3 linked regions of the Homo sapiens genome follow. The protein of the gene in region 1 interacts with the protein of each later gene in a pairwise test. Each region holds a gene or a part of one and is shown in the gene's direction. Other genes may lie near its edges. The genes, in order: CRX, TCF7L2 and BANF2.

Region 1 (3,749 bases):
AGCCTCCAGAGTAGCTGGGATTACAGGCGCCTGCCACCACGCCCGGATAATTTTTGTATTTTAGTTGAGACGTTTCACCATGTTGGCCAGGCTGGTCTCGAACTCCCGACCTCAGGTGATCCGCCTGCTTTGGCCTCCCAAAGTGCTGGGATTGCAGATGTGAGCCACCACACCTGGCCCCTAGAACAATTTTTTAAAACTATATAATGGAGATCTTTTAAAATCAGTTCAGAGAGCAGCCTTATGTTTTTTTTTTTTTTTTTTGAGACGGAGTCTCGCTCTGTCGCCCAAGCTGGAGTGCAGTGGCTTGATCTTGGCTCATTGCAACTTCTGCCTCCCGGGTTCAAGCGATTCTCCTGCCTCAGCCTCCCGAGTAGCTGGGATTACAGGCACGCGCCACCATGCCCGGCTAATTTTTGTATTTTCTGCAGAGACGGGGTTTCACCATGTTGGCCAGGCTGGTCTCGAACTTCTGACCTCTGGTGATCTGCCTGCCTTGGCCTCCCAAAGTGCTGAAATTACAGGCATGAGCCACTGCGCCCAGGCTTACTTTAAAAAAAAAATTAATTTTTTGTAGAGACAGGAGAGTTTCGCTATGTTGCCACCTGAACATAAATGCTATTTTCTTTTTCTTTTCTTTTCTTTTTTTTGAGACGGAGTCCGTAGCCCAGGCTGGGGTGTGGTGGCACCATTTTGGCTCACTACAGCCTCCGCCTCCCAGGTTCAAGCGATTCTCCTGCCTCAGCCTCCCAAGTAGCTGGGACTACAGGCGTGCACCCCTGTGCCCAGCTAATTTTTGTATTTTTAGTAGAGACGGGGTTTCACCATGTTGACCAGGCTAATCTCAAACTCCTGACCTCAAGTGATCTGCCTGCCTTGGTCTCCCAAAGTGCTGGGATTACAGGTGTGAGCCACTGCGCCTGGCCCATAAATGCGATTTTCATTCCCATTTTCCAACAAGGCGACTGAGGTATACATTGAAGGTGAATTACTAGGACAAAAGAAAGATGGCATTTTACTTCAATAACAGTTTGTTACAACCTGTACTGCTACCTATCTGCCATGGGAGTGTGCCTTTCCCCACACTGACACCAGTGCTGGAAGTTATCAACCTCCTTCATCTTTGCCAACCTGATAGGTCAAAAGTGATCATGGAAGATCCACACTCGCTTTTTTTTTTTTTTTTTTTTTGAGATAGGGGTCTATTTCTTTTTCTTTTTTCAGAGATGGGGGGTCTCACTATTTCTTTTTCTTTTTTTCAGAGATGGGGGTCTCACTATGTTGCCTAGGCTGGTTTTGAACTTCTGGGCTCAAGTGATTCTCCTGCCTTGACCTCCCAAAGTGCTGGGATTACAGGTGTGAGCCGCCTTGCTTAGCCCTTACTGTCGTTTTTTTGTTTGTTTTTGTTTTTGTTTTTTTGTTTTGTTTTGTTTTGTTTTTGAGACAGAGTCTCGCTCTGTCGCCCAGGCTGGAGTGCGGTGGTGCGATCTTGGCTCACTGCAACCTCTGCCTCCCGGGTTCCAGTGATTCTCCTGCCTCAGCCTCCCAAGTAGCTGGGATTACAGGCACCCGCCACCACACCTGGCTAATTTTTGTATTTTTAATAGAGATGGGGTTTCACCATGTTGGCCAGGCTGGTCTTGAACTTCTGACCTTAGGTGATCCATCCATCTCAGCCTCCCAAAGTGCTGGGATTACAGGCGTGAGCCACCTTGCCTGGCCCTTACTGTTGGTTTAATGCCACTCTCCCTTAGGGTGACCAACCAATCCAGTTTGCCTGGGACCATTCTGGCTCTAGCACTGAAAGTCCTGTGTTCCAAGAAACACCCACCTCTCCTCCAACCTGGGCAAAGAGGGACGGTTGGTCAACCTGCAGTCCTGGGTTATAAGTGAGGCTGAGCGTGTTTGCCCATGGTCAAGAAAGAAGGGATCTTGGATGAGGGTGTGTAACAGGATCAGATTTGTTTTGTTTTTTTCTTAGAGTCTTGCTGTGTCACCCAGGCTGGAGTGCAATGGCCTGAACACAGCTCACTGCAGCCCCAAACTCCTGGGCTCAAGTGATCCTCCCACCTCAGCCTCCTGGGTAGCTGGGATTACAGGCATGCATCACCACACCCAGTTAACTTTTTAAAGAACACTTTTTTTTTTTTTTTAAGAGACAGGGTCTTGCTATGTTGCTCAGGCTGGTCTCAAACTCCTGGGCTCAAGTGATCCTCCCGCCTTGGCCTCCCAAAGTGCTGGGATGACAGATGTGAGCCATTGTGCCTAGCCAGGACGAGATTTTTAGAGGGTAGAGTAGGAATAAGAGCTTGCACTTATGAGGCACATGATGGCTTCAGCTGTCTGCTTTGCAGAGTCTCAAGAAAGCTCTGAGAACCTTAAGCAGAGGCCATTTTACATGTGAGGACACAGAGGTACAGAGAGGTGAGATAAATGGCCAAGGTCACATACCTAAGAGGAGAAGGAGGCAGGATTTGAATCGCAGCCTGCACGTCACCCCATGGTGAGTAACTGGTAAGTGAGTGAGCATCCCTCCTCTTCTCTTGCAGGCCCCCTGACTTGGGCCTCAGTGTCCCCGAAGATCATGATGGCGTATATGAACCCGGGGCCCCACTATTCTGTCAACGCCTTGGCCCTAAGTGGCCCCAGTGTGGATCTGATGCACCAGGCTGTGCCCTACCCAAGTGAGTACAGTCGTTTCTCTTGGCACCCCAGGCTGGCCTCATCTCTTGGAGGACCTCTGGGGTCCCTTTGCCCCCAGGAAGAAGGCAATCACAGGGGCGACTTCAGGGCCATACACCAGCCCTCTGGGTTCATCTGAAATGTATGTCACTTAGAAAAACATTAGCAGTCCTAGAAATTCAGGACAGAGGTTCCTTTTGGGGTGAGGAAGAGGGGATGTAATCTGGAAGGGGAATCAAGAGGAATTTTCATCTGTTACCAAAACTTTATTATTTATTTATTTTTCAGAGACAAGGTCTCACACTCTGTCACCCAGGCTGGAGTGCAGTGGTGGTGGTCACGGCTCACTGCAGCCTCGAACTCCTGGGCTCAAGCAATCCTCCCACCTCAGCCTCCTGAGTAGCTGGGACTGCAGGTGTGAGCCATTGTGCCTAGGCCCGGGGGGCACTTTTTTTTTTTAATTTTATTTTTGAGACAGGGTCTCACTCTGTTGCCCACTCTGAAGTGCAATGGTGCAATCACAGCTCACTACAGCCTCGAACTCCTGGGCTCAAGCGATCCTTTTGCCTTGGCCTCCCAAATAGCTAGGATTACAGGTGCACGCCACCATGCCTGGCTAACTTTTTTAAGTTTTTGTAGATTTTGCAGGATCTGGATTATACAAAACATAGAAAAAATTATTATTATTTTTTTTTTTGTAGAGATTGGGTCTCCCTATGTTGCCCAGGCTGGTCTCAAACTCTTGGGTCCAAATAATCCGCCTGACTCAGCCTCCCAAAGTGCTGGGATTACAGGCATGAGCCACTGCACCTGGCCTGCAAAGCCTTATTTCTTTTTCTTTTTTTTTCTTTCGAGACACAGTTTAGACGGAGTTTCGCTCCTGCCCAGGCTGGAGTGCAATGGCGCGATCTTGGCTCTTTGCAACTTTTGCCTCCCAGGTTCAAGTGATTCTCCTGCCTCAGCCTCCCAAGTAGCTGGGATTACAGGCGCACACCACCATGCCCGGCCAATTTTTGTAAAGCCTTATTTTTAAGAGAAGTGAGTACTCAGTTATTTGTAGCATTATT
Region 2 (3,749 bases), on another chromosome or scaffold:
CGTGTTCCAGATACCCCTCTCATTCCTATGATCTGGAAACTTCCACGTCATGAGGGTGGGAGGGGTGAGGAAGGTACCAGAATGCTCCTAGCCAATCAGGGCTTCTAGCTTGCCACACAAGGTTTCTAGTTTCATTTGACATTTGTGGACATTTTAACAAGATTCTGTTTTGAGCCCACCAAGTTGCTTTTCCCATCTTTTCACTCTGCCCTAATATAGCATGGAATGCTGCTTGGTGCTGTTCCCTTGTCTTCCTGGTTGTTCTCCCTGCTTCTTTCTTTCTCCCTTTCCTTTCCTCTCTCTGTTTTTCTCTGTTGCTTTCTCAGTTTTGCTTATGCCCTCCCCCTCCCCACCTCCTTTCCTTCTCCCATTTTTAAAATGCATGGACATCTTAGTTTTTTGAGCATGTTTTGATCTGCAGGCTAAGGTGGTTTAAAACTCTGAGAGGCTTAATTATTTATCTTGGTTTCTGGGATGGAAGCAGAACCCATAGTCTATTTACTCTCTCCCAGGGAGAAAAAGGAACCTTGCCAAATTGAGGGTGAGAGGGGGTGGTGCTTGCTCCCCTAGAGTTCCTTCTGACCCAGAAGGAACAGACAGACCCTGAGGCCACTAGCCCCCATGAATCTCAGCCTCTGGGAGGCAGGGAGGACTGAGCATGCTCCCTTACACCCCTCCCCTCCTTCCCTGCCTTCCTGCCATCTTGCTGAGTCCAAACCCCAAGCACAGAGGGGCATGATCAGACAGCTCTGGGGCACAGACTGAGAGGAGGAACTCAGCACACCCTTCCTTTCCAAGGCCAGTGACATTGTCTGACAGTGGTTGCCTTCAAGCAGGCAGCATCTTGGTTGCTTCCAGCGGCAGAAAGCTGGCCAGTGCTTACACACGTGTTTCCAGTTGGAGTGTTATCAGCCATGGTTCTGACAATATTCTAGGGTCCTTAGATGAGCACACTTCCTGTATCTGCATTATTTTTATAGCATTAGTGGGGTTGATCCCCAGGCTCACCTTTCCTTACCAAATACCATCCCATCAGACTGGGATTAATGGGAGGAGAAGCTTTGAAGTCACATGCTCAATTTCTTGAGTTGATTTTCCCCGACCTCATCCTTTGATGCTAAGCAAGAAGGGCTCTGAAATTCTCATTCCTATTTCTTACATGAATGAGTAGTGAAGAGGGGAGATGCTGGTTTTGGTGCAGGGCAAAATTAGTCTTTCTGGTTTAAACACGAATCACGATAACCCAAACCCAGGAAGGTCCATGCTGCGATTCCCTGGCACTTCTTCTTTGTAGTCACTTCGGTGACCGGCTTGTGCTGCACCCTCCATTGACTAGCCTTGGCATATTGACAAGAGCAGGATGCCCCTCCATCCATCCCATCCTCACCATCTCTCCTTCCAACCTTCTCACTACGGGGTGGGGGAGGGGAAAGCCCCAAATCTTAAAAAAAAAAAAAAAATCAAGTTTGAATCTTAATTTAATCCACAACCTGCAGGCCATACAACCAGTTATTCTCGTTCCTTTGAATCATTTTCTGTTTTTCTTATTCTTCCCCCTCCCCCACCTTTGTTTATCCTCTTCTACCTGTTTTTGGTGGTTTCTTTTTTTTGTTTCGTTTTTTGTTTTTTGTTTTTGTTTTAAGTTTATTTTGTTTTATTTTTGTTTCCCTTCCTCCCTTCTCACCTGATTCTGACCTCTCTTGATTTGGTGTGGTTCTTAACAGACAAGCCCGAAAGCTCTCTGGGCGCCAGCAGCCTCATGGTGGTGGTGTGTTAAAACCTTTAAGCCTCTTGCTAGCGCTGCCTTCAGCTATGTGGGCTCAACAGTGAGCATTTTGAGAGTTTCATATTGATACGAGGCGGCTGGGGAAGGAGCTCTGTCTTTCTCTTTTAAACACACACACACTCACACTCACACACTCACACACACACATCACTGGGGGATGGGGGTGGTAGTGGTGGGAATGGGAGTGAAGGGCCGAGGAAACTTGATGGGAAAGTGAGGGACTGTCTAAGCCAAAAGAGCTTTTCAGTTCTTCTCAATTTGGACAAAGCCACTTTTTGGCAAATAGATGCCACCATCTGCAGGTGGCCGCCTCCATGCTGCTCTCGTATATAATTTGGGCATGGTGGGGCATGGGTGTTTAGTAGGGGTTGGGGGAAGCAAGTAGAGAGTTCAGACTCTTAAATAAGTTGTTTGCCAGAGCAGGCTTAGATCTGGGCACTGTGAAGTAAGCGACCCACCCTGGGGGGGCGCCACTGTAATTGTCCTCGGACCACTGGGCGTGCCACCTCTGTGGGACATCCCTTAGGTGACCTCAGCTTGGGTGTGAGCATTAGGTAACTCTCTCCCTTGGCATCTGTGCCCTCTATTCACAGATAACTCTCTCCCCTGTTTCTAGGAGAAAAAAAAAGTGCGTTCGCTACATACAAGGTGAAGGCAGCTGCCTCAGCCCACCCTCTTCAGATGGAAGCTTACTAGATTCGCCTCCCCCCTCCCCGAACCTGCTAGGCTCCCCTCCCCGAGACGCCAAGTCACAGACTGAGCAGACCCAGCCTCTGTCGCTGTCCCTGAAGCCCGACCCCCTGGCCCACCTGTCCATGATGCCTCCGCCACCCGCCCTCCTGCTCGCTGAGGCCACCCACAAGGCCTCCGCCCTCTGTCCCAACGGGGCCCTGGACCTGCCCCCAGCCGCTTTGCAGCCTGCCGCCCCCTCCTCATCAATTGCACAGCCGTCGACTTCTTCCTTACATTCCCACAGCTCCCTGGCCGGGACCCAGCCCCAGCCGCTGTCGCTCGTCACCAAGTCTTTAGAATAGCTTTAGCGTCGTGAACCCCGCTGCTTTGTTTATGGTTTTGTTTCACTTTTCTTAATTTGCCCCCCACCCCCACCTTGAAAGGTTTTGTTTTGTACTCTCTTAATTTTGTGCCATGTGGCTACATTAGTTGATGTTTATCGAGTTCATTGGTCAATATTTGACCCATTCTTATTTCAATTTCTCCTTTTAAATATGTAGATGAGAGAAGAACCTCATGATTCTACCAAAATTTTTATCAACAGCTGTTTAAAGTCTTTGTAGCGTTTAAAAAATATATATATATACATAACTGTTATGTAGTTCGGATAGCTTAGTTTTAAAAGACTGATTAAAAAACAAAAAGAAAAAAAAAGCAATTTTGAAGCAGCCCTCCAGAAGGAGTTGGTTCTGTATTATTTGTATTAAATACGAGCTTGCGAACCAATCATTTTACATCTGGTTTTTAAACCGTAAGGGCACCATGAATGCAGTGCCGTTACTTTTTTTTTTTTTTTCTGTGTGAAACAACTCTTATTGTGATGTTACTTGTTATTGTTTAAATGTACAGAAACAAAGGGTAAAAATGTGTTAATATACCTTGTTCCATGGTGTTGTTCTTTTGGGGGGAGGGGACGCTACTCAACACTTAATAGAATCACAACGCTGTTGGGCCAGTAGTATTTATTGCTTTAGAGATTGCTTGTCGTACCTGTATGTCGTCCCTTTTTAAATATGTTTTCCTTTTTCTTGAAACTGTATAAAGTTTTTTTCCCCCTTAGCATAAGCATCTTATATATAACAACTCATTTGTACAAGGTTTTTAAGTTTATATATAAAATGTGTATATATATTTTTGTTTCCCCTTTTTGACTTTTTTTTTTCTGTATGAAACCCAGATGTCACCAAATGGACATTAATAGTTGCATTAAGGATCAGTAGCATTAACAAAA
Region 3 (3,749 bases), on another chromosome or scaffold:
ATACAAAAATTAGCCGGGTGTGGTGGCACACACCTGTAATCCCAGCTACTCGGGAGGCTGAGGCAGGAGAATAGCTTGAACGCAGGAGGCAGTGGTTGCAGTGAGCCAAGATCATGCCATTGCACTCCAGCCTGGGCAACAAGAGCGAAACTTCATCACAAAAACAAAACAAAACAAAAAACTGGAAGATGGCAACCCTCATTTAACAAAATGGCCGGTTTTGCTGGGATGCAGACCTAATGCTTATGGAACCCATGATATTTCGAGATCTTCCAGGAAATATTCAGGATGTTAGCTACCTCTGGCAGTCTTCATTAAGGTCCTAGGAGACTCAACTCCTGGGAGATGGTGGTCCATTTAAAAGTGGAGAGGGATGAAAATAGTTTTGCTAAGACAGAGAGTCTTTTTGCCTGGGGCCTGCAATCTAAAGTTGCAGGAAATTGATGAGCAAGTCCTGCTGTTTGGGAAAGCTGATTTATCTGGCTAAAGTTAGAGCACAGGCAACAAATGAGGTGACTTAAGCAAAAGCCACCTTCTCTTCCTTCTTTTGAGGTGGAGTTGGTGAGGCCAAAGAGTGCTGGAGCAGCCCTTTCACCACCATGAGGGGAGCCAAGCAAGAATAAAGCCAACACAAGGAGGGAAAGCTGGACAATCCCTGAGGAATGGCGCTGCGACCCATTCCCACCTGCAGGCTTTGGATTTCTATAATGTGTTCTTTACAATTTGAGCCAGTTTGAAGAGTTTCTAGAGAGTTTACACTATTATACAGTGTGATGAACACTGAAATAAAAGTATGACTAAAGTGTTGGGTGGTTAAGAGAGAAGGTGGGTTAATTAGCTAAGAGAAGTAAGTTGTTGCTTTAGGCATTTAGAATGGGGTGAGTTGGAAAGAACCCACTGCAGTTCTTAATATTAAGCACACTCTTTTCGTGGAAATTTATTTGACTCATCTGTGGCCATCATTCGGCTTCTGTTTGTCCATCCAGGTAGGAATGGATGTGTGAAGGCCTTAGTGGAGGCCAGTGCACCTGCATTTAGTAGACCCCGGGAAATGCTGGATGATGGAAGGAATTCTGCCATCTGTTGCCCCAGTCCCTTGGTGGGCTGAGGGAGTTCCCCAGTGTCCATGCACACTGGGAGAAGTCAGGTATCTGCTAATCCTCCTCTCTCCCCACTGCTGTCGCAGGAGATGGACAACATGTCTCCCAGGCTGAGAGCCTTCCTCTCCGAACCCATTGGAGAAAAGGATGTCTGCTGGGTGGATGGCATCAGCCATGAGCTCGCGATCAATTTGGTCACCAAAGGTATCAATAAGGTAATTCATATTTTCTTACTTCTCTGACTTCTCTTCCCTACCTTTCTTCCCCCAGTCCTGCCAGATGGCAGTTCCTGCCACGTGTCCCTGTGAAGGGCCATCAGAGAGCAAAGCTGCCGCTTGGCGGGGTGCCACATGCTTTCGTGCTATTGACCCCACATGCTCAGGCAGCCTCAAGGGCCTGCAGATGATGGGCACATACACATAGAATGGCTTCAGTTCAGAGCAGCTGGGCTAGGCATGATTCACTTGGTGTTCAAACACTCAGGGATCAACAGAAGTAGGTCAGCCGCCGGGGTCTGAGATGAGCTGTCAGGATGGATGATTTAGGTGCACTCCATGCCCCCATGAAGGGACTCATGGCATCTCGCTTGCCCCTGCCAGGGCACCAGCCTGGCAATGGGCAGGTGAAGAAACAGGAGCCTGGGGTCTACACTAGAGTGAGTTATTCTATGATGTCACTCTCAGCCCAAGAATGACCTCAAGGATATCCAGTGGAATTGGAATATTCTTTTCTACGTCATTGTTTGTTTTTATGGGGCTTTTAAAAAGCTGCTTAGGGCCTCAGGAGAGGATGAGACAGTCCCAAAGACAACGCAAAGAGAGTGAGCACAGACAAGGCAGGCTGTGAACTCACAGAACATGGCACGCCCGGTCAGGAGAGGCACCAGCTAGAGCTGTTGCTCTTCATTCTCCTCAGTGCCCCAAGTCAGTCTACCAGGCGGGACAGTGTTACAGAAACACCCAAAGAGGCTGGGAACTGCTGCACACATGGCTGACGACTAGTTTGGTTTGCATCTACATCTGAACCATGAGAGCCATGGTTTTCTGATTACCCCATTGCTCTGCACTAGCTGGTAAATACTCAGAATAACACCCCAATCTGTGAGCCAGTTTAATGTCCAGTAGATGGTATCATCAGAAATGGAAGTGCCCCTATTGGGTAGATTGGATTCTTTCCTGCCAGACGAAGGAGGGAGAACCATTCTCTGGGGAACAAATTTTAAATGAAAAAATTTTTGTACTTTTATTATTTATTTATTTATTTATTTGAGACAGGGTCTCACTCTGTTGCACAGGCTGGAGTGCAGTGATGCCATCTCGGCTCACTGCAACCTCTGCCTCCCAGGCTCAAGCGATCCTCTCACCTCACCCTCCCATGTAGCTGGGACTACAGGTGTGTGCCACCATGCCTGGTTAATTTTTTGTGTTTCTTGTAGAGACAGGGTTTTGGCATGTTGCTCAGGATGGTCTCGAACTCCTGGACTCAAGTGATTCAACATACCTCGGCCTCCCAAAGTGCTAAGATTATAGGTGCAAGCCATCACACCTGATGAAAAATTCCTTTTTTAAAAAAAGAAATCATTCTTCTTTTTACTTTCCTATTGTGATGTAACATACCGAGGAGAATATGTGTTGATATAAAGGAATTCACAGATCAATGAATTTTTACACACATATGTACACCTATGTACCCACTACCCAGATCCAGCAATCAGATGTCTCCAAAATTCCAAATGGTTCTCTTGTGCCTCTTCTTGGCCAAGGCTATCCCCTATCCTTAGAGGTAACCACTCTTCTGATGTCAAACAGCATTGATTAAATGTGTCCATAATTGTGGGGTTTTGTGGTTGTTGTTCAGCTATACTCATTATTTTAAAAATGTTTTTATTAAGGTATAATTGACATACATACATTAAATTTCACCCTTTTTAGTACATAGTTCTATGAGTTTGGACACATGCATGCAGTGATGCAGCCGCTACCATAGTCAAGACACAGAGCAATCCCATTACTCAAAATATTCATTTCCTTGTGCTCTTCATATTCACCAGCCTCAGTCCCTGGCAACCACTGATTTATTTTCTGTAGTGTTGCCTTTTCCAGTTTAAGTCTGTGTGTGTGAATAGCTTAACTGTGTTTTAAATGAGGATTATAGGTGGGTGGGTTTTAGAACAAAAAATGAATGAATAATGGAAAAATGTTAGGCATCTGAAAACTTGCCTGTCGAGTCAGGGCTGTGGGGACGGTTTGTCTGTGTGCAGCCGGGTCCCTGGAGATGTGCTCCTCTTGTGTCCATGACCTCCTGGCCAGTGCAGTGAGCACTTTCCTAGAGCTGCTAATTTTAGGCACTGGCACTGGGGCTGTCACCTGTATCCTTCGCTTTGAGCCGCCCACACCCGTGATTGAGATGAGGGTCACTCTCTCCACTTTACCAGTGAGGAGACAAGGGCTCCGAGGAGCAGTGCCTTGTCCGCTCCCAGGTGAACTGGAGCAGCCGTGGATTGTACTGTCACAAATTGCACAAGAAGATCTGTGGCCAGGCGGTTATGCCCGGCAGGGAGGAGGCTTAGACTAAATTTGGGGGTGAGAGCCTGTATCAGGGTCTGGAGTCCGGCTGGGCCTGTAGTGAGACCCAGGAGGAGACCCAGAT

What was found.
Region 2: the proteins of CRX (region 1) and TCF7L2 interact in binary tests that used the Homo sapiens proteins (3 or more experiments, as listed by UniProt).
Region 3: the proteins of CRX (region 1) and BANF2 interact in binary tests that used the Homo sapiens proteins (3 or more experiments, as listed by UniProt).

The regions. Positions count from the first base shown.
Region 1 is NC_000019.10:47,831,860-47,835,608, forward strand, and holds part of CRX (cone-rod homeobox protein), read left to right. Parts: intron 1-2,549; 5' UTR 2,550-2,584; coding exon 2,585-2,684; intron 2,685-3,749. UniProt on the Homo sapiens protein: Transcription factor that binds and transactivates the sequence 5'-TAATC[CA]-3' which is found upstream of several photoreceptor-specific genes, including the opsin genes.
Region 2 is NC_000010.11:113,163,153-113,166,901, forward strand, and holds part of TCF7L2 (transcription factor 7-like 2), read left to right. Parts: intron 1-2,402; coding exon 2,403-2,820; 3' UTR 2,821-3,749. UniProt on the Homo sapiens protein: Participates in the Wnt signaling pathway and modulates MYC expression by binding to its promoter in a sequence-specific manner. Acts as a repressor in the absence of CTNNB1, and as activator in its presence.
Region 3 is NC_000020.11:17,723,837-17,727,585, forward strand, and holds part of BANF2 (barrier-to-autointegration factor-like protein), read left to right. Parts: intron 1-1,186; coding exon of another isoform or gene 1,187-1,189; coding exon 1,190-1,315; intron 1,316-3,749. UniProt on the Homo sapiens protein: May play a role in BANF1 regulation and influence tissue-specific roles of BANF1.